Linked DNA regions of Homo sapiens. The protein of the gene in region 1 purifies or fractionates together with the protein of each later gene. This does not show direct contact. Each region holds a gene or a part of one and is shown on either strand. Other genes may lie near its edges.

The links.
Region 2: the proteins of ETFA (region 1) and ZMPSTE24 fractionate together in Homo sapiens (co-fractionation; one large-scale study listed by BioGRID). This does not show direct contact.
Region 3: the proteins of ETFA (region 1) and PDIA5 fractionate together in Homo sapiens (co-fractionation; one large-scale study listed by BioGRID). This does not show direct contact.
Region 4: the proteins of ETFA (region 1) and FKBP3 fractionate together in Homo sapiens (co-fractionation; one large-scale study listed by BioGRID). This does not show direct contact.
Region 5: the proteins of ETFA (region 1) and PGD fractionate together in Homo sapiens (co-fractionation; one large-scale study listed by BioGRID). This does not show direct contact.
Region 6: the proteins of ETFA (region 1) and GSTO1 fractionate together in Homo sapiens (co-fractionation; one large-scale study listed by BioGRID). This does not show direct contact.
Region 7: the proteins of ETFA (region 1) and ARL8B fractionate together in Homo sapiens (co-fractionation; one large-scale study listed by BioGRID). This does not show direct contact.

What each region holds. Positions count from the first base shown.
Region 1 is NC_000015.10:76,290,970-76,294,469, forward strand, and holds part of ETFA (electron transfer flavoprotein subunit alpha, mitochondrial), read right to left. Parts: intron 1,732-3,500; coding exon 1,650-1,731; intron 1,545-1,649; coding exon 1,462-1,544; intron 1-1,461. UniProt on the Homo sapiens protein: Heterodimeric electron transfer flavoprotein that accepts electrons from several mitochondrial dehydrogenases, including acyl-CoA dehydrogenases, glutaryl-CoA and sarcosine dehydrogenase.
Region 2 is NC_000001.11:40,261,236-40,264,735, forward strand, and holds part of ZMPSTE24 (CAAX prenyl protease 1 homolog), read left to right. Parts: intron 1-1,603; exon of another isoform or gene 1,604-1,727; coding exon of another isoform or gene 1,728-1,748; intron 1,749-3,500. UniProt on the Homo sapiens protein: Transmembrane metalloprotease whose catalytic activity is critical for processing lamin A/LMNA on the inner nuclear membrane and clearing clogged translocons on the endoplasmic reticulum.
Region 3 is NC_000003.12:123,119,025-123,122,524, forward strand, and holds part of PDIA5 (protein disulfide-isomerase A5 precursor), read left to right. Parts: intron 1-3,500.
Region 4 is NC_000014.9:45,120,982-45,124,481, reverse strand, and holds part of FKBP3 (peptidyl-prolyl cis-trans isomerase FKBP3), read left to right. Parts: intron 1-2,861; coding exon 2,862-2,997; intron 2,998-3,500. UniProt on the Homo sapiens protein: FK506- and rapamycin-binding proteins (FKBPs) constitute a family of receptors for the two immunosuppressants which inhibit T-cell proliferation by arresting two distinct cytoplasmic signal transmission pathways. PPIases accelerate the folding of proteins.
Region 5 is NC_000001.11:10,402,064-10,405,563, forward strand, and holds part of PGD (6-phosphogluconate dehydrogenase, decarboxylating), read left to right. Parts: intron 1-1,007; coding exon 1,008-1,073; intron 1,074-2,097; coding exon 2,098-2,216; intron 2,217-3,500. UniProt on the Homo sapiens protein: Catalyzes the oxidative decarboxylation of 6-phosphogluconate to ribulose 5-phosphate and CO(2), with concomitant reduction of NADP to NADPH.
Region 6 is NC_000010.11:104,257,892-104,261,391, forward strand, and holds part of GSTO1 (glutathione S-transferase omega-1), read left to right. Parts: intron 1-1,684; coding exon 1,685-1,907; intron 1,908-3,500. UniProt on the Homo sapiens protein: Exhibits glutathione-dependent thiol transferase and dehydroascorbate reductase activities. Has S-(phenacyl)glutathione reductase activity. Also has glutathione S-transferase activity.
Region 7 is NC_000003.12:5,174,292-5,177,791, reverse strand, and holds part of ARL8B (ADP-ribosylation factor-like protein 8B), read right to left. Parts: intron 3,449-3,500; coding exon 3,378-3,448; intron 1-3,377. UniProt on the Homo sapiens protein: Small GTPase which cycles between active GTP-bound and inactive GDP-bound states.

The DNA.
Region 1 (3,500 bases):
CTTTGGGAGGCTGAAATGAGAGGATGACTTGAGGCCAGGAGTTTAAGACAAGCCCGCACAACATAGGGAGACTACATCGATACAAAAAATTTGAAAATTAGCTGGGCATGGTGGCATGTACCTGTAGTCCTAGCTACTCAGAAGGCTAGGATAGGAGGATCGTTTGAGCCCACAAGTTGGAGGGTATGTTGAGCTACAATCGTGCCACTGCACTCCAGTCTGGGCAACAGAGCTAGGCTGAAGCAGGCAGATCACCTGAGGTCAGGAGTTCGAGACCAGCCTGGTCAACACGGCGAAACCCTGTCTCTACTAAACATACAAAAATTAGCCAGGTGTGGTGGCACGCACCTATAATCCCAGCTACACACGGGAGGCTGAGGCAGGAGAATGGCTTGAACCCAGGAGGTAGAGGTTGCAGTGAGCTGAGATTGTGCTGCTGCACTCCAGCCTGGGCGAGGAAAGTAAGACTCCATCTCGAAAAAAAAAAAAAAAAAAAGTAGGCCAGGCGCGGTGGCTCACGCCTGTAATCCCAGTACTTTGGGGGGCCGAGGCGGGCGGATCACGAGGTCAGGAGATCAAGACCATCCTGGCTAACACAGTGAAACCCCGTCTCTACTAAAAATACAAAAAATTAGCCGGGCGAGCTGGCGGGCGCCTGTAGTCCCAGCTACTCGGGAGGCTGAGGCAGGAGAATGGCGTGAACCCCGGGGGGCGGAGCCTGCAGTGAGCCGAGATGGCGCCACTGCACTCCAACCTGGGCGACAGTGAGACTCCATCTCAAAAAAAAGAAAGTAAAAATAAAGACTAAAAATGACACCTTATTAAGAATGGAACAAAAGAAAAGAGAGCTAAGATAACACCCACGGCCACAGAGAGAGAGCAAGAAAAATCCACTGACGAATTCCTTGTCTTAAGCTCCCATTACACTCCTCCCTCCATTTTTAACTTTATGTAGACTGCTATCCATCTTATAACACACTCATTCTTCAGACACATCACAATGCACATGATCAGATTACAGCTTTCTTTACCTTAAGGATGTCTTCAACCACCACAAGCCCTTTCCAAATTCCCTACGTAGATAAAATTTGGCTTTTCTAGATATCCATCAGCCATCCAAATAAACCATCTCTTAAAATGGGCTACTAATAGAAATGACTCTTGCTCGTTCACTCTCTCTCTCACATGCAAGCAGAATTCAGCATTACTTTTACATGCAGAAAATTTTAAAATAATAGCCTAATTAGAGTTTTCTCCACAACATAATTTGAAAACCTGGAAATGGTAGTTTTAACGGAAAATTATGACAAAATCTTGAAAGAATAAATTTTAGCAAAACTACCACATCAATTCAGATAAATCCAGATTGGCTACATAAACAGTCTGTTGCATACTTTCAGCACAATGAAATCTAACCCTTTCAAGCAGTGATATCAGATTCCACATTCTCAACCTTCTCACCTTTCCGAAGGCAGATGCTCCAGCACAGATGTGTGTGTAATTGAACTGCTTCTGAGTTGCCAAAATCAATGGTGTCAGTTCCTCTGAGAATTAAACACATTTGATAAAAAAATATTTTGAAATACTTTCATATTCATATATTCAAGCGTAATTTAGACACTACATTTTTTTCTACTGGAAAACCTCACCTGGAAGTAGGCCTTTGTACACATCATGCTGAGCCACCAGAACTTTTGCTATGCCTGCTACTTTACAGAGATCTTGTGCCACCTATGATTAAAAGATAAGTTCCTAATTATCCATCTATCAGAAATATACAAATAAAGCCACCACTATAAATATCAACAGATCATAAAATCTTAATGGCCAACTGTAAAAATTATTCTTATTAGCAAAAGGGCCAGTTAAGAATTAAAATATATTCCGGCCGGGCGCAGTGGCTCAAGCCTGTAATCCCAGCACTCTGAGAGGCTGAGGCAGGCAGATCACCGGAGTCAAGAGTTCAAGACCAGCCTGGCCAACATGGTGAAACCCCATCTCTACTAAAAATACAAAAATTAGCTAGGCATGGTGGCGGGCACCTGTAATCCCAGCTACTTGGGAGACTGAGGCAAGAGAATGGCTTGAACCCAGGAGGCGGAGGTTACAGTGAGCCAAGATCACACCACTTCACTCCAGACTGGGCGAAAGAGTGAAACTCCATCTCAAACAAACAAAGAATTAAAATATTAAAATACATTCCTTAACAAAGAAAATCTAATGCCAATAGATCTTACTACTGACTGACCTTACACTGTCCAACTACCAAGCATTTCAACAAAAATTCCTGCCTTGAAAAAGAAAAGTGCTAATTGACAAACCAAAATCAACATGGCTCTTTATTCAAATTTTGTTATAAATTGTGCTTTTTACTTTTGGTTCAATCCAAGTGTAAGTTCAATGTCCTGGAAATGGTGAAAATGAAGTTCTCTAGTAACATCCCATTGTCAACCACTGAGTTCCTGCCCACATACACATATTTATCTATGACAAAGCAAAATATTTCCTATTTTAATTCTTCATTTTTCCTGTTTGGAATTAGAATGGGGTTCTGAGAAAGCTTTTTGATGATTCAGATTTTCTATATTCAGAAGGCAATTAGATTTCCCCTTTTTAAGTATCTTTATTACCTCATGGCTGGTTTCCACTTTAGCTAAGTCATATCAGTCATACTATCGTCTTCTGTCTCCTTGTTTACCTCCAAACTGATTCATTGATTCACTGATGAGTAGGATTAAAAGGCTGTGCCTTGTGCCACCCTCATATGAACTGTTAGCTTGCAACAATATTCACTGAAGAAAGGATGCAGTGCAAGAATACATTCTCTGCTAAACCAAGTGTTCACCGGCATACCATTTGTACTACAGAGGCCCTTTATTATGGATGCAGCTGCATTTAGCTTCTCAAACTTTAAGAGAATTTCCAATTAAGAAACTCAGTTAATTGCAATGTAGCTGCATAGCAGCATGGGATAGAAAATGGGGCAGAATTTTCCCATTGAAACTATCTTGTTTTTACTGGCAAAACGGCTGGCATTATACAGAAGAATAACTTGCTGTTTATGACAAGTAGCTGAATAAAATGGTATAAAACCGAACTCTATTAAACGATCTCTTCATACAGGTACTGGTTGTTTTCTTTAAAATTAGAACATGACAGGTTAGGATTGTAACTGAGTACAGAAGACGATTTCTATTTTGATTTTTCTCAAAGTAGTATAAAGTATCAAAGTCTTTTTAAAGTAATATTACAATAATTATTTTAAATCACAGCAAAACAAACAACAAATCACAAATTCCTATATATCCAAAAACAGGGAAACCAAAAAGATAGCTTAGCCATCATATACTGTGGCTAATACAGACATACAAATAGATAGCTTAGCCATCACACATCACACATTGTGGCTGTATCAACTATGTAAGATCCTACAGTTGTTAGCAGGAATTGGGTAAAGAAATCCACATAACTAATCATAAACCCACCAGAATATGTTCTTT
Region 2 (3,500 bases), on another chromosome or scaffold:
ATGTCATGTCTTCTAAGCAACCATTTGAAACTCCCTGCCTGACGAATGTGGATAGGGTAGCATTCTATCATTATTCCTGTCAGAGTACTTATCTCATTATGTTGAATTTGCCTGGATTTTTTTTTTTTTCTTCTGGCACAGTCTTGCTCTGTCACCCAGGCTGAAGTACAGTGGCGTGATCTTGGCTCACTGCAACCTCTGCTTCCTAGGCGCAAATGATCCTCCCACCTCAGCCTCCCGAGTAGTTGGGACTACAGTTGCATGCCACCATACCGTCTCAGAGTGCTGGGATTATAGGCATGAGCCACACTGTACCTGGCCTGATTTGACTGTTTAATTGGCAGACTGGTAGTTCCTTAAAGAAATAGTTAAGTCTTGTTCATCATTTTATACCTAGTGCCTGGCATGTAATCAGCATATAGTTCCTATTTATTGAATGAAATAATGTGGGGTTTTTTTGTTGCTTTTTTTGTTTTGTTTTGTTTTTGTTTTTGAGCAGTGTCTTGCTCTGTCGCCCAGGCTGGAGTGCAGTCGCACGATCTTGGCTCACTGCAATCTCCACCTCCCGGGTTCAAGCGATTCTCCTACCTTAGGCTCCTGAGTAGCTGGGACTACAGGCGCGTGCCACCACACCTGGCTAATTTTTTGTATTTTTAGTAGAGACGGGGTTTCACCATGTTAGCCAGGATGGTCTCGATCTCTTGACCTCGTGATCTGCCTGCCTTGGCCTCCCAAAGTACTGGGATTACAGTCATGAGCCACTGTGCCCTGCCACTTTTATTTTTATCATCCTGATCATCATCATCATCATTTCTCTAGAACTTTTAGATCTACTAGTACCACTAAGAGAAAGATTCCTAAATTTAAAAGAATTATGATCAGCTACCATCATTGTTTCATGAGTTAAAGAAACTGGCTTTATGTAGCTGTGGTAAATGACAGAATTGTCTAGCTCATCACAAAATTTTTCTTAACAAGTATGGAATAATAAGACTAGTGTGGTTAGATCCAAATTATTAGAAACTGCACTTATTTCTTCAAGGTGATGGAAAATGGCAATGCTTCTAGAAGAGTTAAATTTTGGTATTTAGAAAAATTAATAAATGATTTGGAAAACAAAGTCTCATTGGCTTTGGGGATACACAGCTATTGCTATTAAGTAATCTTTTCAATAAAGACTTGGCTTTAGTTAATTTATCTGAGCATTGCTTCTGTTAGGGACATGTCACAAGTAGGAAATCATCCTTCAGAGACAGATGGAAGTAGAAGTGGTTAATTTAGACACTATTCTTTTTTTTTTTTTTTTAAATAGATGAAAGAGAGTTTACTTATGTATTTATATAATGGCCTTGGTCCAAAAAAGACTAAAGGGAGCTCAAAAAAGAATTATAGTAACTTTAAAAAATACATTAAACATATCCAAGATCTTAAATGTATCATTCTCCCCAAAAGCTAGTTGCTTCCAAACTTGACTTAATATTTTGCATGTTTTCCCTCCATTGCTTGGTAAGTGTATTTGCCTCTTCTTTCTGCAGTTGATGTCTGACGGCTGAGTTTTGCTGTTTTGTCAACTGACATTTCCCCTTCTGTTTCACCAGTTCCAGAGAATTGTTGAACAACTTAACAACACTACCTGAAGAAGTAATACTCAAGAGTTCTTGTTCTATACTGATTAATAGCTCCCATATTTTCTTCATCTCTGAAAAGTCTGAATTCTCTGTTTAATAATGACAAGGCAATTAGATGAGGTAGACACTATTCTCTTTCTGATGTTTGCTTCTTGGAAGTCCTTTGACTTTACCCACTACAGGGCCATAGTAAAATAATAGGAAAAGCATTTTCAATCTCCTTGGTTGTCCCTGGTAAATAGTGCCAGGAAAGATAGACAGTAGCTTGGTAATTATGGTTGGTGACCATAGGAATGGCTGTTTGTTCTAGGGGATGACAGAAATAGGGAGAATACATATATAAAGTGAGAGCTTTGTAATGTACTGTGGCTCAAACTAGAAGCAGTACTGATGGGCTAAGGTTGGGAACAGTAATAGTTAATAGTCGTCATGATTTTCACTTCATACATAGTTTTTATATGTATTGTTTGATGTTTACAACAGTGAAGTGGAAAGGATAGGCATTATTATTCCCTTCTTATGAATGAGGAAGCAAAGGCTTGGATAAATTAAAGGGTTTGCATGTTTAATTGCCAAGGGACATGCTAATAAGTAGGATAACTGGGTTTCAAACTCTGTTCTGCTGAGTCTTTAAAATGACATTGAAAAATCCATTCTTGAAACTCTAAAGACTGCAACATGAATGTGCTAAATTTATCTCTGGGGATTTTCTGGCTGCATTTATGCTTGGCAGGAAGAATATTTTGGGTAACTTTGAAACCTTGTTTTGTTTGGAAACAAGTTCATTAATTTCTATTTTGTGTTGATTAGAATTAATAGGTTTGTATGTTTTGGTCACAGAGATCAAGTGAGAAGATTAGCTTCGACTTTTTTTTTTTTTTTTTTTGCCGTAGTACTTTCTACCTGAGGGAACCTAAATAGAGTCATTGTGTGGCCATTTATGGTTGCCACTGTTCACATAAATATGACACTGCACCCAGACAGAAAATTCCAGCCTCTCTGAGACACTTTCTCTAATATCTCACAGATATCAATAAAGGGCCCACTGAAGAAATGGAATGGCTGGGGAGCAGAGTAGGTCAGGGTCGAAAAGTTTAAATTGTTGCTTCTCTAATTTTTGCATGTTTCTATGTGAGCAGTTTCACCTTCTTGAGCCTAAGTTTTCTCATCTTTAAAATGAGAAGTGGGCTGGGTACGGTGGCTCACGCCTGTATTCCCAGCACTTTGAGAGGCCGAGGTGGGGGCGGATTACCTGAGGTCAGAAGTTTGAGACCAGCCTGACCAACATGGCGAAACCCTGTCTCTACTAAAAATACAAAAATTAGCCTGGCGTGTTGGCACATGCCTGTAGTCGCAGCTACTCAGGAGGCTGAGACACAAGAATTGCTTGAACCCGGGAGGTGGAGGCTGCAGTGAGCTGAGATTGCAACACTGCACTCCAGCCTGGGTGACAGAGTGAGACTCCATCTCAAAAATAAATAAAAATAAAATAAGAAGTGTGTGGATGTTAAGCCATACCTTGTATGGTTTGTGGCAAGGACTAAGTGAGTGAGATAGCGTAAATGAAGCTCAATGCGTAGGAATTACTTAGTCATTGGGTTTCTTTGGACAAGTTACTTCAACCTCTCAGTTAAAGTAACCTTTCAGTTAAAGAGTTTCAGTTGCCTCATCTATTAAATAGAGATGATTATACCCTTTTCCCTGCCTGTTTTTCAAGACTGTAGTAGTGAAGCCAGGCATGATGACTCAATCCTGTAATCATAGCACTTCGAGAGGCTCAGGTGGGAGGATCACTTGAGCCCAGGAGTTTGAGACCAGCCTGGGAAACATAGTGATACCCCATCTTTGCAAAAAAATTTTTAAAAAATCAAC
Region 3 (3,500 bases), on another chromosome or scaffold:
AGGATCACTTGAGGCCAGGAGCTAGATACCAGCCTGGGCAACATAGTGAAACCCCATGTCTACAAAAAATTTTAAAAATTAGCTGGGTGCAATGGCATACACCTGTAGTCAATGCTAGCTACTTGGGAGGCTGAGGTGGGAGGATCACTTGAGCCCAGGAGTTTAAGGCTGCAGGGAGCTATGATTGCACCATGCTCTGCACAACAGAGTGAGATCCTGTCTCTAAAAAAAAGAAAAAATGAATTCCAGCTTCTTCTGCCTGGGCCCAGGTCTAGAAATATAAAAGTTACCCATTCCAGTTCCCTCAACATTACAGAAAAGTCAGGGGCGTTGTCTGCAAAGCTGGGCAAGTCAAGCTGTGACCAGGTGTTGGCTGCCTTGGCCTAAGACATCTGGGTTGTGTAAACTCATTTCTTTGTTTGTATATTTTCTTGCTTGGGGTTTGTTTTGTTCTATTTTCCCTTTCATTTCCTAGAAAAGCATCTTCTGGAAAGTTCTAGCCCTTTCCCAGCTACATAAAGAGGGAAGGGCCCTGGCCGCTGCACGCATCACCCACGCAGGAGGCCCCTAGAGGCTAGGGCTTACTCTGCAGGGGCAGCTCCCCAGAAACTGGGGACCTGGCTGGAGGGGTTGAGTGACCACAGGTGTCAATTGCTTTTTGTCTTCACACACAGAAAAGAGGTGGGACTAATAAATGGGCTGCTATTCCCCAGAAATCAAAGTTCACCCCCTCCTCGCTGCTGAAACACAGCTGGATTAGGGCCTTCTGTCACTTCTTCATCTCTGTCATCTTTGAGCCTTTTTGGCTGGGTCTGTCTCTGGCAAGGGTCAAAAATCTTCCTCCTCTACAGATTTTTTGGGAGGTGTTCAACCTGATTGACATCATTAGGAAGGAAGGCATGCCAGGTCAGGGATGCACAGCCTTTGCCATTTCCAAACTTACAGCTGCCTCTTTTGTGCTGTCATTGACGTCTGGTGACTCATCGCGTCTGTCCCATCTACTCCTGCTAATTGACATCCTCATTAGCAGCCACGCTGCCCCCATCTCAGAGCAGCCATCAGAATGAGCCCTGTCTCCATCTGCCTCTTCCCAGCCTTGCCAGTTATTGACATCTGCACTGAGCCTTTGAGCTTTGCCTAGTCTTTGGTGGACCTCGGCCATGATGGGCCAGTCTGGGTATAAACACCATGAAATAGAACCATCATGACGACAGATTTGTACAGACCAGGCTCTAGTGCTGGCTCTTGCTAACCAGCTGGGAGATCTTGGTCCAAGCTCCTTAGCCTTGGAGCCTCCATTTCTCCATCTGTAAAATGGAGATGATAATGCCAACCCTGCCCACACTGGGTTGTGGTGAGGAACAAATGGGCTGTGTGGAAGAAGCCCTGTACCCCACAGAGCACTCATAGACACAGATGACTGATCCCCTCTCTTCCCTACAGCTGCCCTGCACCACATTCCTTCCACCGGCTAGATGGGGGTGCTCCCAAGGTTCCGCTTTCCTGTTAACACATTGGAGCAAGGTTTTGTCTTATTACAGTCTACCTTCCAGTGACCACATCTCTGTCCATAGCTTCAACAAAACGTAGCTCCATGGAGCCCAAGTCCTTCCCCTAAGTGCCAGTGCCACGTGTCAGATGGCTTGCTTCACAGCTCCATCTGGATTTTTTCCCTTGTGTCTCAAATGCATGTCTGAAAATTCAGTATCTTTCCATCTGGCAGACTGTGAACTTTGCATTAAGTCCTTTCCCCAGGGGCCAGGCTCTTTCCCCACCCCCCACCTCCACCTCTCTTTACTGAGGCATCATCAGGCATCTTCCTCATGCACCCTTCATCCTCTCCCTGCCCACCAGCCCTGTCCAGTGGGCTATGCTAGCTGGTGGCCAAAGGCTGCTGACTTGTCTCCTGACCACAGCATTCCCTCATAGCTCGTCCTTTCTGCTTCGAGAGATACAACTGGTTTGAGGGTTGCTTTCTTACTTAGAAACCCTCGGGAGCTCTCCGTCACTTCCTGAATACAGTCCCGATTTCTTAGGTATTTCAAGCCTTTCCCAAAGTGATCCTGGCCAACTCACTCAGCCTTTTCTTTCATGTCTTCTCCTTTCTGTGTATCCTGCCTTCCAGTTAGATGGAAATGTGCTCCATTTCTTGGGCCACATCTTTCTTTGCCTTGCCTCCAGTTCCCCATCCCGGGACGTCTGTTGAAATCTTACTCTCCTCTGAGTGCAAGCTCACATGCAGCCCACGCTAAGAAGCTGCCGTGATGGTTCCTGGCAGCAGGGCTGAACACACAGAAGAGCATGTCACGCCAGCTGAGTGGCCCCAAGCATGCAGATGGCAGTGGGGAGCAGGGAGGCTGTGTTCTTATCTTCTCCACAGGCCGAGACCAGGTGTGTCACCTCATTTGACTTCACAAATTCTAACTCCAGAAAGTGTTTGTATGTAGTTTTTCAAAAATTTTTGCCTCATTAACTAATAGATGCCCCCAAAATGGCACAAAAGTGCTACAGAAACTTGGAGAATTAAGAGCTCACCCCAAGCGAAGGTGGTTTGCAAAGGCTGCCCAGAGACGTGAGGTTTGATTTGCCTTAAGGGATGGGTGAGTCTGGAGGGTCGCCAGGAGGCGGGGGATGGGCAGCCTCAGTAAGGGGACTGGAAGGCACCAAGTGGGGGCCAGGAGAGAACAGCGAGTGTTCCAGAAGTGTGGGCAGAAATAGAGCACCTCCTAGTCCTAGTAACAAAAATAGCTAATACATTTTGTGTTATTGATTATCTTGTATTATTTCATTGAATCTTCTCAACAACCACATGAGGTGGCTGCAGATGAGGAAAGTGAGACGCAGAGACAACTGTGACTCATTCAAGGAAATGCGCGACCCCATGGGGAGTTGGGACTCAAACCCAGGCATCCTGAGTCCATGCTTCCAGCCACTGCATGTTGCTGCTGCACTCAGCAAGATGTCTGAGAAGGCAGACAGTCCAACTTCCTTCCTGTGCAGAAATCTCAGACTGTCTTATTCCTGGGAGAATAAAAAATCTAGACCCTAACAGGTGTACAATGAAGAGTTTTGTAAGAAAGAAAGATTCAAAAATGAAATAGGTAACATATGGGCATTGAATGTGGAGCTGGATTTTAGCCTATATTCAATGGAATTGGAAGGTTTTGTGCAGGGAAGTGATGTAATGAGCGAGGAGGACGTGTAAGATTAATCTGTGGTGAATGTGCACTGACACTGGGGAGATCAATTAGGCAGAAAAAAAAAGGACTTTTAAAGAAGACAAATATTACTGGAACAGGCCGCTGGAGCAGTCTGGGAAATGAGCAGAATGACTTTTATAGAGCGTTCCAGGGCTTCAAGTAAATTCGAATTCAAATTTATTCTTCCTGTATTATTTGCTGCATCCTAAAATGGGCTAGGAAAAAAAAAACAGTGAATTTAGTGAGCATTTATTGTGTCCTTGCTGTATGTGAGGCCTTGTGCTAGGGACTTAAAACAAT
Region 4 (3,500 bases), on another chromosome or scaffold:
TGGCTCACTGCAACCTCTGCCTCCTGGATTCAAGTGATTCTCCTGCTTCAGCCCCCTAAATAGCTGGGATTTCAGGCGCCTGCCACCATGCCCAGCTAATTTTTGTATTTTTAGTAGAGATGAGGGTTTCACCATGTTGGCCAGGTTGGTCCCGAACTCCTGACCTCAGGTGATCAACCCTTCTGGGCCTCCCAAAGTGCTGGGTTTACAGGTGTGAGTAACTGCGCCCAGCTGATTGAAAGATTTCTATGCTGTATGCACCTGCTCTACTGAGAAGGTCATGGAAAAGACAAGAGTTCAAAGGCTGATAGAATTCTGGAACTTCAGGGAGGGATAGATTAAGATCCTGCATGGTTTAGGCCTTTGGACACAAAACTATAAGCAGTAATTGTTAATATCACTCTAGCAGTTGAGTAGAGGACTGACTCAAGGTGTCAGAGATAAACACAATCGGACATTAAAGTGGTGAAAACAGATTTTATTCAGCCTACTGACAGTAGGGGAAAGAGCTAAACTCCAGTCTGATTTGTGGAGGGGTAACTGGGCCTTTTAAAAGAATGAGGGGGCTGGGCCTGGTGGCTCACGCTTGTAATCCCAGCACTTTGGGAGGCCGAGGCGGGCAGATCACGAGGTCAGGAGATGGAGACCATCCTGGCTAACATGGTGAAACCCCGTCTCTACTAAAAATACAAACAAAAATTAGCTGGGTGTGGTGGCGGGCGCCTGTACTCCCAGCTACTTTGGGAGGCTGAGGCGGGAGAATGGCGTGAACCCGGGAGGCAGAGCTTGCAATGAGCCGAGATCATGCCACTGCACTCCAGCCTAGGTGACACAGCAAGACTCCATCTGAAAAAAAAAAAAAAAAAAAAAAAAAAAAAAGGAGTAGAGAGGGATTTAAGCAGAGTTAGAGAAGTGAAAAATTACATAAAGTAGGAAGTGGGGTTGGTCCATATGAAACCCATCTGAGTTTGCCAACTGGCGCTTATCAAAATCAGGCTCCCACAGAGACAGAGACAGGGGTCCTATCTTCATCTTGAGGCGTTGGCTGGAACAAACAGTAAATTTTTTTTGGCAGCCTTAAGTTTTCTTAGGCGGACACTTTAAGGAGGGATCAGGTCCTCCTAGGAATAAGGCCTTGAGCTATTTGAAACTTGTGTTTGTTCAAATCTTTATAGTCCAAGGTTGAAGGCTTGTGAAGAAGAGGTCTCAGAGGACCCTAGCTAGGGTTTGGTCAGGGAGAGAATCTTTTGCCCAAGAGGTAGACTATTTGCAAGGAGATCAGACTTTTTTTTTTTTTTTTTTAGATGGAGCCTTGCTCTGTCGCCCAGTGGTGCCATCTTGGCTCACTGCAACCTCCGCCTCCTGGATTCAAGTGATTCTCCTGACTCTACCTCCCGAGTAGCTGGGATTACAGGCACACGCCACCACATCCACCTAATTTTTGTATTTTTAATAGAGATGGGGTTTTACCATGTTGGCCAGGCTGATCTCAAACTCTTGACCTCAAGTGATCCACCCACCTTGGCCTCCCAAAGTGCTGAGATTACAGGTGTGAGCCACCGCACCCAGCACAGATATTTTTACTTACAAGTTTTGGAAAAGGATAAAACCTTCAGCTAGGGAAATGAAAGTGAATAAAAATTTGCATAACTTGACCAATTAGAAATAGATCAGGAATAGGCCAGGCGCGGTGGCTCACACTTGTAATCCCAACACTTTGGGAGGCCGAGGCGGGCGGATCACGAGGTCTGGAGTTCGAGACCATCCTGGCCAACATGGTGAAACCGTGTCTCTACTAAAAATCCAAAAAATGAGCTGGGCGTGGTGGCAGGCGCCTGTAGTCCCAGCTACTCGGGAGACTGAGGCAGGAGAATCACTTGAACCCAGGAGGCAGAGGTTGTTGCAGTGAGCCGAGATCACACCGCTGCACTCCAGCCTGGCGACAGAGTGAGACTCCATCTCAGAAAAAAAAAGAAATAGGTCAGGAATAAAGAAAACACTTTTCTCTTGCTTTTCAAACTCAGGAACTAATAGATATGAATTATTGGATATCCAAGCACACCTTTGTTATTTATTTTATGAAATTTAGAAACCAAATATAGATTTGGATAATGCAGATCCCTCTGAATTTGGTCTGAATTCAGAAACCAAATAGATTTAGGTAAGGATACTTTTAAATTCGGTACACTTCTTCTTTTTTTTAATTAACTCCCTAAGATTCTTGACAGTTCCTCTGTCTGCTTTCCTCTCATATATGAATTGCTATTGATTAGATTAATATGTAACCTTTTTTGTAGAAGACCCTGATAATCCTACTTTGTTCTAGGAAATATGCCTGTTATAGCAATTTCTTTAGGTAATTTCATCCATTGTGTGAATTTATTTTCCAAATCGGGGACAGAGGCAATATCACTGTATTCATTCTAATTGGTTATTATAAAAACACCTAGTAATATCAATTATTGCTGCTAAAACAGTTCAAATCTTTGTGGGGGGGAAGTCACCATCCCTTATTTTAATGCCTTATGATTTCATAGGAATTAAATAGTAATGATTTTTTTTAACTTTAGGAAATAACTGAAATCATGTTATGGTTTGGTGAATTATTAACAGAATCTTATTAGAAGAATTTAGGCTTCCAAAGAAGCTGGAAGTTATTTGAAATTAAATTATAGATGTGTAAGTTACTAATAGTCACATCACAGCCTTGAAATTAGATACTGAGGGTTTTGTTTGTTTATTTATTACCAAATCCATCAAACTCTTTAAACTGACTTTGGTCATTGTTGGCTATTGTTTGTCATTCTTTTAAAGGACACAAATTAATAACTCTGTGTGTGTGTGTTGTTTTTTGTTTTTAGGGTCCACCAAAATATACTAAATCTGTTCTGAAAAAGGGAGATAAAACCAACTTTCCCAAAAAGGGAGATGTTGTTCACTGCTGGTATACAGGAACACTACAAGATGGGACTGTTTTTGATACTAATATTCAAACAAGTAAGTCTAAATGGAATCTTATGTTTTTGGCTTAAAGAGATTCTAAATACTTGGGTGGCAGACAGATGAGTAGTTAGCAGTACCTTTTTCCTGACTGTCACCTACTTTCATCCAGACATACTTTCCCCCAAGATCTACTTGGAAGAGGTCTTCAGTTCACTGATTATTGGCTGGCTAAAGACCTCTTGTTCTTTGGAAAGCAAAAGATAAGGAATCTCAGTCTAAACCTGGTTAATGTCCCAAAGTAAGGCATTAGTATTTGAATAGAAAAGGCAGGATAGTATGCTGTTTTGTGATATAAGTATAGGTCCTACCCCTCTACCCTTTGTTAAGAATGTAATTATTTTTACAGCCAGAATTTTATTGATGGATGATCTTTGTAAATTTTTTCCTTCTTTTAAAATACATAGTATTGTAATTCTGAAATCAAACCACTATATTTTTCCACTGGAATTTAATAATTTCCAATGGAAATTTCTTAATAATAAATTAGAGTATATCAT
Region 5 (3,500 bases), on another chromosome or scaffold:
AAAGCCCAGCCTGGTTGGTGTGCTGTAGGTAGATATTCATGTTCAAGGCTCTGTCTCTTCCTGACCTCCGAACTGTTGTCATAAAATCATTCATTCATACACTAAACCATTTGATATGTATTTACTGAATCCCCACTCTCTTCTAGACACATTATAGTCAGTGTTTAATCTGTATACTTACTTAAAAATAGAAATGGGGTCTTGCTATGCTGTCCATGCTGGTCTCAAATTCCTGGGCTCAAGCGATCCTCCTGCCTCAACCTCCCAAAGTGTTGGGATTACAGGTGTGAGCCACTGAGCCTGGTCAGCCCTAAACTTTTAAATAGTGTGCAGCTCTGGCCACAGAGAGGATTATTGAAGATTAAGTAGGCTGGGTGCGTTGGCCTCCTGCCAAGCCAGGAGGCTTTTAGCCCAGGAGTTTGAGACCAGCCTGGGCGACATGGTGAGACTCCATCTCAAAAAAAATTTTTTTTTTTTGAGACGGGGTCTCACTCTGTCCCCCAGGCTGGAGTGCAGTGTTGCGATCTCAGCTCACTGCAAGCTCCACCTCCCGGGTTCACGCCATTCTCCTGCCTCAGCCTCCCGAGTAGCTGGGACTACAAGGCGCCTGCCACAACGCCCGGCTAATTTTTCGTATTTTTAGTAGAGACGAGGTTTCACCATGTTAGCCAGGATGGTCTTGATCTCCTGACCTTATGATCCACCCACCTCGGCCTCCCAAAGTGCTGGGATAACAGGCGTGAGCCACCGCGCCTGGCCTACAAAAAAAATTTTAAAACTAGCTGGGCATTGTGGTTCAAGGAGTTCAAAGTTGCAGTGAGTCATGTTCACACCACTGCAGGAGTTCAGGGTTTCAGTGAGCCATGTTCGCACTCCTGCATTCCAAGCTGGGCAACAGAACGAGACTCTTTTTAGACTATGTTTATTTGGAATAAATTCTTGTTTGTTTTAATTTGCCAAGGTATGTTTCATTTTTGGTCCATCTTAATGCTGGTGTCTGGTTACAGGTACCATTGTTGGATACTGGTGACATCATCATTGACGGAGGAAATTCTGAATATAGGGACACCACAGTAAGTGTTCTTCAGTCCAGATTCTTCCAGGTTCCGAGAACATTCTAGAAAAAAGTGTCAGCATCGCATATGTGACAGTAGGGTGAACTGCCCTGTGGTACTGATTTTTTTGAGATTACTACTGATACAATAGTTCTCAGCCTTTTTTTCTGTTAAGACACACTTAACAGAAGGGCCGGGTGTGGTGGCTCACACCTGTAATCCCAGCACTTTGGGAGACGGAGGCAGGTGGACCAAGAGGTCAAGAGATCAAGACCATCCTGGCTAACATGGCGAAAACCCGTCTCTACTAAAAATACAAAAAATTAGCCTGGCATGGTGGCATGCGCCTGTAGTCCCAGCTACTTGGGAGGCTGAGGCAGGAGAATTGTTTGAACCTGGGAGGCAGAAGTTGCAGTGAGCCGAGATCATGCCACTGCACTCCAGCCTGGGCGACAGAGTGAAACTCCATCTGAAAAAAAAAAAAAAAAAAAAGACACTTGGTGGGTGAGATTCTCAGTCACACATACAACTCAAAGGATGACTAACTCAGATACAGCAGGCTGAGAATTACGTTTTAACTCCTCCCCTTCCCCTTCCAAGTAATCCATGATATGTCAGTCTATAACTGGTTTAGAACCACTCCTCTAATGGTATCAAATGCTGAGGGAATTCCTGTGTGCTCTGAAGTGCTGAATGGCATTAAGTTGTATTACACCTACTCTTCGTTGAGTCTTATTCAAGGTCTTTTCCAGTAAAATGCCAATGTGTGTTTGGCTTAATTATTTTACTTTGGGGATGAGGTAGGTATCGTGAATGTCCATAGTTGTATTGTTTTGTTTTTTAACTCCTACACATAGGGGATTAACTTTCCTGAGTCATCAGTTATTCCTAGATCCTTGGGTCATTTCCTGTAAATGTAGGCTCTCCATTCCTATCTTATACTTCCTCTCATTTATAAGGGAAACATTTTTGGGTAGCATAATGAAACATGGAAGCATAATGAAACATGGAAGCATAATGAAATTATTTTTCTGTCCTTCAGAGACGGTGCCGAGACCTCAAGGCCAAGGGAATTTTATTTGTGGGGAGCGGAGTCAGTGGTGGAGAGGAAGGGGCCCGGTATGGCCCATCGCTCATGCCAGGAGGGAACAAAGAAGCGTGGTGAGTGCCATCAGCACTGTGCCCATCTCTGTACAAGGGAGCTGGACTTTGAGAACGAATAAGCCAGGAGCAGTTCTGCCACCCTGATCTCTGTGGTGCCCTGAGTGTGACAGCTGGGAGATGCTGGCAATTTCTTTTATCTAGACATTTTGTTGCTTTGATATAGTATATGTGCACAATCCTCTTTTGCCTTTTTTCTTCTGTTATTTCTATCAAGACTGATACCTGACGTTCTAAATAGGCTTTTTTTTTTTTTCCCGCCCAGGCAGGAGTGCAGTGGTGAGATCTTAGCTCACTGCACCCCCCGTCTCCTGGGCTCAAGCAATTCTTGTGCGTCAGCCTCCTGAGTAGCTGGGACTACAGGCACATGCCACCATGCCTGGCTAATTTTTTGCCTTTTAGTAGAGACAGGGTTTCACCATGTTACCTTGGGTGGTCTCGAACTCCTGACCTTAGGCGATCTGCCCGCCTTGGCCTCCCAAAGTGCAGGGATTACAGGCATGAACCACCACACTTGGCCTCTAAATAGGCTTTAAGGAAGCAGTTTAGGTAATGTTCTGTGCAATGTCTGGATGTAGGAATAAGGTCTGCCTCTTTTAGCTGATATATAACCCAAAAGTAACTTAATGTGATAATCGTGGGTAACAGGCTGGGCATAGTGGCCCATGCCTGTAATCACTGCCCAGCACTTTGGGAAGCTGCGGTGAATGATCATTTGAGCCCAGGAGTTGAAGACTAGCCTGGACAACATAGCGAGATCCTGTTTCTACAAAAAAGTAAAACAAACATTTTTTTAATTAAAAAATATAAATTGGCCGGGCGTGGTGGCTCACGCCTGTAATCCCAGCACTTCGGGAGGCTGAGGCAGGCAGATCACCAGGTCAGGAGATCTAGACGATCCTGGCCAACATGGTAAATTCCTGTCTCTACTAAAAATACAAAAATTAGCCGGGCATGGTGGCGTGCGCCTGTAGTCCCAGCTACTTGGGAGGCTGAGACAGGAGAATTGCTTGAACCTAGGAGGCAGAGGTTAGTGAGCCGAGATCGCGCCACTGCACTTCACCCTGGCGACAGAGTGAGAGTTTGTTTCAAAAACAAAACAAAACAAAACAAACAAAAAATACACACACACACACACACACACACATATATATAAATAATTGTGGGCAATCCGATATATATATAAATAATTGTGGGCAATCCGCTTGCCCTGGCCTCCCAAAGTACTGGGATTACAGGCGTGAGCCACCGTGCCTGGTCTGAAATATGATTCTTTAAGGCTGG
Region 6 (3,500 bases), on another chromosome or scaffold:
TTTACTGAGTCCTTATTTGAAACTTTTTATTTTCTTCAGAGCATTTATATCTATATAGCATTTTGCTCATTTACATGTTTGTTTATTACTATGAACAGATACACAAGATCCCACCTTTCGTGAAGCTTACATTCTAGGAAGATAACAAACTTGTAAATAAGTGAGCAAAGTAATTTCAGATACATATTATCAGTTCAATGAAGAAAGTAAAACATGATAATCATGTAATAGAAGCTGCTCAGCAACTTCAGAGCTATGGTCAGGGAGGGCCTGGGGATGTGTGTTTGACCTGGGAAGACCTGGGAAAAGGCAGGCAGAGGAGGCAGAGGACCATCAAGTGCAAAGACTCTAAGGTGGAAACACATTTGGCAAATTCAAGGAATATAAAAACCGCCAACGTGTAAAAGAAAACATAGGGGAAAAGCTTCATGACACTGGCCTTGGCAATGATTTCCTGGACATGACACCAAAGACCAGGCAACAAGACCAAAAATAAACACATGAGACTACAGCAAACAAGCTTCCACACAGCAAAGGAAACGATTAACAGAGCAAAAAGGCAACCTATGGAATAGGAGAAAGTACTTGCAAACCACATACCTGGTAAGGGGTTAATCTCCAAAATACATAAGGAATCTCTACAACTCAACAACAAAAAAACCTGATTTTAACATGGGCTAAGATCTTACATAGACACTTCTCAGGCTGGGCATGGTAGCTCACGCCTATAACCCCGAGGCAGACAGTTCACTTGAGCCCAGGAGTTCAAGACCAGCCTTGGCAACATGGCAGAATCCTGTCTCTACAAAGAAATTAGCTGGGTGTGATGGTGCACGCCTGTGGTCCCAACTACTCGGGAGGTAGGAGGATCGCTTTAGCCCAGGAGGTCGAGGCTGCAGTGAGCTGCGATCAAGCCACTGTACTCCAGTCTGGGAGACAGAGTGTCAAAAAAAATTAAAAATTAAAAAAATAGACATTTCTTCAAAGAGGATATAAAAATGGGCAACACATATATGAAAAAGTTCTTATCACTAATCATCAGGAAAATGCAAATCAAAATCACATAATAACCTCACACTTGTCAAGATGACTATAATGAAAAAAGACAAGTGTTAGCAAGGATGTGTAGAAATCAGAACCTTTGCACACTGTTGGCGGGAATGTAAAATGGTACAGCTGCTATGGAAAACAGTATAGATGTTCTTCAAAAAATTAAAACTAGAACTACCATGTGATTCAGCAATCTCACTACTGGGTATATATCCAAATTAAATGAAATCAAGTTCTCAAAGAGATATTAGCACTCTCACGTAGACTGCAGCACTGTTCACAACAGCATAATGTCAATGTCCATCAGCAGATGAATGGATAAAGAAAATGTGTTAATGCTATTCCACCTAAAAAGGAAGGAAATTCTGCAATATGTGACAACATGGATGGACATTGCGGACATTATGCTAAGTAAAATAAGCCAGACACAGAAAGACAAATACTGCATGATTGTTCTTAAAAGGTGTATCAAAAGTAGTCAGATTCATAAAATCAAAAACTAGAATGGAAGGAATCTAGGCAGACTCCTAAATTTGGGGTCTGATCAGCTAAGTGGATGGCAAAGCCAGTGAGAATTTATCCAAAAGCACAAAAGTTGTTTCCTTCTCTTCATAGTCTCCTATGTGTCTTTCAGGCATGAAGTCATCAATATCAACCTGAAAAATAAGCCTGAGTGGTTCTTTAAGAAAAATCCCTTTGGTCTGGTGCCAGTTCTGGAAAACAGTCAGGGTCAGCTGATCTACGAGTCTGCCATCACCTGTGAGTACCTGGATGAAGCATACCCAGGGAAGAAGCTGTTGCCGGATGACCCCTATGAGAAAGCTTGCCAGAAGATGATCTTAGAGTTGTTTTCTAAGGTTTGTGCATAAGAAATTTCAGCTCCTATTTGAAAAACCTGTTTTTTAAAGCGAAATCAGTGCTGCCATTTATGGTTCAGTGATTTGGGAGAGAAAAACAAAACAGGAATATGCTTGTCAGCTCTGAGTGTCCTGCAAGTCCTTTCACGATCCAGTTCCTGTTTACCTCCAAAATTATCCCTTTTCACTCGTCTCCTGACACTTTATATATGCCAGCCATACTAAACTTTTCTCAGAATTCCCAAATTCGCCCCTTTCTCTTTCAATTCTTGCTGTCAGATTCTTCCCACTTCTCACTGTGCCTGGTTATCTCCACGTCATTTTTCACATGTCTGCTCCGACACTGCTGCCTTTTCAGGAGCTTGGCAGGCTGGTTAGTGCTCTAGCTTCTGAGTTCCCATCCGTGTGAACTTTTGCCTGCCTTCTTGCCTGTGTACTGCACTGGGGCTGTGAGCTCCTTGAGGGTGAGGGCTGTGTTTTGATCACTGTTAGTTCACTGCCTAGTTTTATGACTGGCTCTGCTACTTTCTTGTGACTCTGAGCAAGTTACTTATTACTTTGCCTCTCCGTTCATCATTGGTAAAATGGATATAGTAATTGTTCCCACCTCATAAGATAAAAATCAGTTAATATAAAACACCCAGAACAGAGTCTGACACATGGGAACTACTTAATTCTTGTCCTTATAGCCATAGCATCAAGCAGTGAGCATCTACTTTGTGTTGGCAATAACTCAGATGACTGAATAAATAGCAATCCTGTAGAAGAACTGTTTGTACCTTACTTAGCATCAACACTGTGGATTAGTTCAAACAATTAGTATTAACAAAGAAATGACTAAAAGATGTGTGTTTAGACACCAAGAATAGCATGTCTGGTTATATGCCTATAACATTGTCACCTTGGTAGTACGGTCAGTATATAAAGGATTATCTTTAGAGAAAAAGATGGTTAAAGAAATGCCCTAAGAGAGAGTTATAGGGAAAACATTCTGTTTTAGGAGACATTATAAAGGGAAGCCAATGGGACAGGAAGAGTGAGTCATCTGCTTAGTAAGATGAGGGTGAAAGAATAGTAGAGGCGGCTGCTGTGAAAGATAATGTAAAGGGAACATGACATTTTCAAGAACGATGTGGGAGAGTTTTACAAAGTAGTAACAAGTTAAAGGCATGCAGCTTCAAGACACGAAGTCATCAATACCAACCAAAAAAAATAAGCCTAAGTGGTTCTTAAAGAAAAATCTCTTTGGTCTGGTGCCAGTTCTGGAAAACTTTTTTTAGTATGGCTGGAATATAAAGTGTCAGGAGAAGAGATAAAAGGGGTAACTTTGGAGAGGTAAACAGGAACTGGATCGTGAAAGGACTTGTAGGACACGTCAGAGAAAATGAGCTTTAAAAGTAAAGCTTTTAGACATGAAGCTTTACTTTCATGCATAAAGCTACTACTTTAAAAAGTAGTCACAAGAGATTCATTGTACTATCTAGAAAGAAAATGAGATTTAAAAGTAATGCTGAAGATGCCCACCTTTACTTCCCTGCTTGGGTTTTAAAGGAGAGGTGGCTTTATGTACATATGACCCTGCTCTCCTGGCCA
Region 7 (3,500 bases), on another chromosome or scaffold:
AAGTGAAATAACCAAATTTAAATATTTAAGAAATTCATGGCCGGGCACGGTGGCTCACACCTGTAATCCCACACTTTGGGAGGCCGAGGCAGGTGATCACCTGAGGTCAGCAGTTTGAGACCAGCCTGGCCAACATGGTGAAACCCCATCTCTACTAAAAATACAAAAATTAGCCGAGCACGGCAGCGGGCGCCTGTAATCCCAGCTACTCGGGAGGCTGAGGCAGGAGATCACTTGAACCCAGGAGGCGGAGGTTGCAGTGAGCCAAAATTGCGCCACTGCACTCCAGCTGGGCCACAAGAGTGAAACTCCATCTCAAAAAAAAAAAAAAAGAAATTCACTAAAAAATTACACAAAGCCTCTGTGGATACTGATAGAAGTTCATATCCTAAAGACAAATGGATCTTTATGAATAGGCAAAAAGACAACAGAAATAAGATACTCAGATGAACTGATCTACAAAATACTTATTTCGAATTTTATTAGAGTGGATCTTATTAGACTGGATCAGATTCCTTGGGCTTGACAACCTTTTAAGTGAGCCAGGAGTTCTAAAATTACTACTGAGCTATTTAGCCAACTATAAAGATCAGCCTCAAATAGCGAAAGAAGTCCTCACAGCTCTACTGCACTTCCATATATGAGCCCAAGAGATTTTGTTTTTTTTTCAGGAAGTATCCAACTAGTTTGTAACAATGGAAAAACAGAAAACATGTAGGGAGTAATGGATTTACAAAATAGCACAATGGACTAAAAATTACGGTTAGTGTAGAACAGGATTTCTCAACCTTGCCACAACTGACATTTTATGCTGGATAATTCTTTGCTGTGGAGGTTATAGTATGTTTAGCTACATTTCTGGTATCTACCCACTAAATGCCAGCATCACCCTCCTAGTTATGACAACCAAAAATGTCTCCAGACATTGTCAAGTCTCCTGGGGGAAAAGCTCCCCATTGAGAACCACTGATGTAGAAATAAATGCTCTCATGGGGCATATCTTAAATTTTAAAAAGAGTTTTCCCCGCCACATAGAGAAAAAACTTTTAAATAAAGTCTAAGTAACCACAAGTGCTTGAGGAGTCTGTTCTCAAATAAATGCTCCCAATGTAACAAGTGAATTATTCTATCCATTTATAAAGGAAAATTTGTGTCTATCCGCTGTTACTAAGGCTGAGACTGCCCTGGATGGTCTTTAAAGGAAGCCCAAAATTAGCCAGAACGACTATCCACACTTTAAACTGAATAAAGCATATTTGTGGCTGGGCGTGGTGGCTCATGCCTGTCAATCTAAGCACTTTGGGAGGCTGAGGCAGGTGCATCACCTGAGGTCAGGAGTTCAAGACCAGCATGGCCAACATGATGAAACCCTGTCTCTACTAAAAATACAAAAATTAGCCAGGCGTGGTAGTGGGCAACTGTAATCCCAGCTACTCAGGAGGCTGAGGCACAAGAATCACTTGAACCCGGGAAGTGGAGGTTGCTGTGAGCTAAGATCTTGCCACTGCACTCCAGCCACGGCGACAGAGTGAGACTCCATCTTAAAAAAATAAAAATAAATAAAGCCATGTTTGCAGGCGGGGTGGAAGGTGAGTTAGGGAAGGATAGACTGGAATACAAAAGCTAAAGAAAAAATATCAGCATAAACTTTATAGATATACTATTCTGGTACTATTTATTACATTTTGTTCCAATACATTCATTTATCAAATCATCTCAAACCAAATTAGTTAAGAAACTAAAGTTGAGCCATACATACTTATTCTGTAACCATACTATGCTAGAATGTTTAATGTCCCCCTAAAAAGTCATGTCCATCCAGAACCTCAGAATGTGACTTTTACTGGAAATAGGGTCTCTGCAAGTTATTAGTTAAGATAAGGTCATACTGGATTAGGTGGGCCCTACCTAATCCAGTGACTTGCGTCCTTAGGAAAACATAATACACTGACACAGAGACAACTACAGGGGAGAAGCATGAATGTGAGGCAGAGACTGGAGTGGTATATCTACAAGTGAAGGAATGCCAAGGATTGCTGGCAACCACCACAAGCTAGAGAGAGGCAAGGAGGGATCTTCTACAGCCTTCAGAGAGAACACGACCCTGCTGACAACTTGATTTTGGACTTCCAGCCTCTAGAATTTTGAATGACTTAAGTTTCTGCTGTTCTAAGCCACCTTGTTTGTGGTACTTTGTTATGGCAGTTCTAAGAAGTTAATATGGGCATTGAGTAAATGAAGGGTATTTTGGGCATATAATTCCAATAGAGTGCTAACATATTGCAGTAATATACTGGTTCAATAACTGAAAAATTGTTGTAGTGCCTGTAGACTAATTTTTGTAAAGTCTTATTTCAAAAATGCCATTTTGTTATAAAGCACAGCGGGATACTAGCTCTGCAAAAATTAACACAATAAATTGGTATCACATAATCTTAACCTCACGACTTTATTGCATTTTCTTCTTTAAATAGCACAAAGAAGATTCAGGATGTTATACATTCAGTCCTCACTTAACATCACTGATAGGTTCTTGGAAACTGCCACTTTAAGTGAAATGGTGTATAACAAAACTATTTTTTTCTCATTAACATTGTAACGCTGAACGAAATGAGGGCCTACTGTATGTCATTTCGCTTAAAAGTGCAATTTCCTCTTTTTAAAAAATTTTTTGCTGTTCAAGAGTTTGATAACATATAGGCCGGGCTCACACCTGTAATCCCAACACTTTGGGGGGCCGAGGCAGTTGGATCATTTGAGGTCAGGAGTTCAAGACCAGCTTGGGCAACATGGAAACCCTGTCGCTACTGAAAATACAAAAATTAGCCGGGCGTGGTGGTGCACGTCTGTAGTCCCAGCTACTCAGGAGGCTGAGGCACAAGAATCGCTTTAACCCAGGAGGCAGAGGTTGCAGTAAGTCGAGATCACGCCACTGCACTCAAGCCTGGGTGAAGGAGTGACACTGTCTCAAAAAATACATATACATATAATATTATTTATATATATATATTTATGTTATATATAATATATATTTATATATATTATATATTACATATATATTACATATAATATATAATACATATTACATATATATTACATATAATATATAATACATATTACATATATTATATTATATATATATTTGTATGAGAGAGAGAGAGATAACATTGCAATTTCAAAGAAGCCATCAATGATGTTAAGTGAAGGTTCACTATATTTGTTGTCAAAAGGTATGTCTATTCTTTTTTCTCAGGCAAAAGCAACAGTATTCTGAAAAGGAAGTCACTTAATGAGAAATCGAGACAATAAGCTGTAAGAAGCATAGACATTCCTTCCAATGATACCCATTTCTTCCAAAATTACCAGTCATTTCTTACCTATATTATCCTTTTCTTTGCAAGAAATTGAATAGCAGCAAATTTCTCTATCCTGAATAGCAGACAGATTCCTATGAGAAGAATTAAAAGGATAAGTCTGTGCTTAGAACAGCTGTCATACTT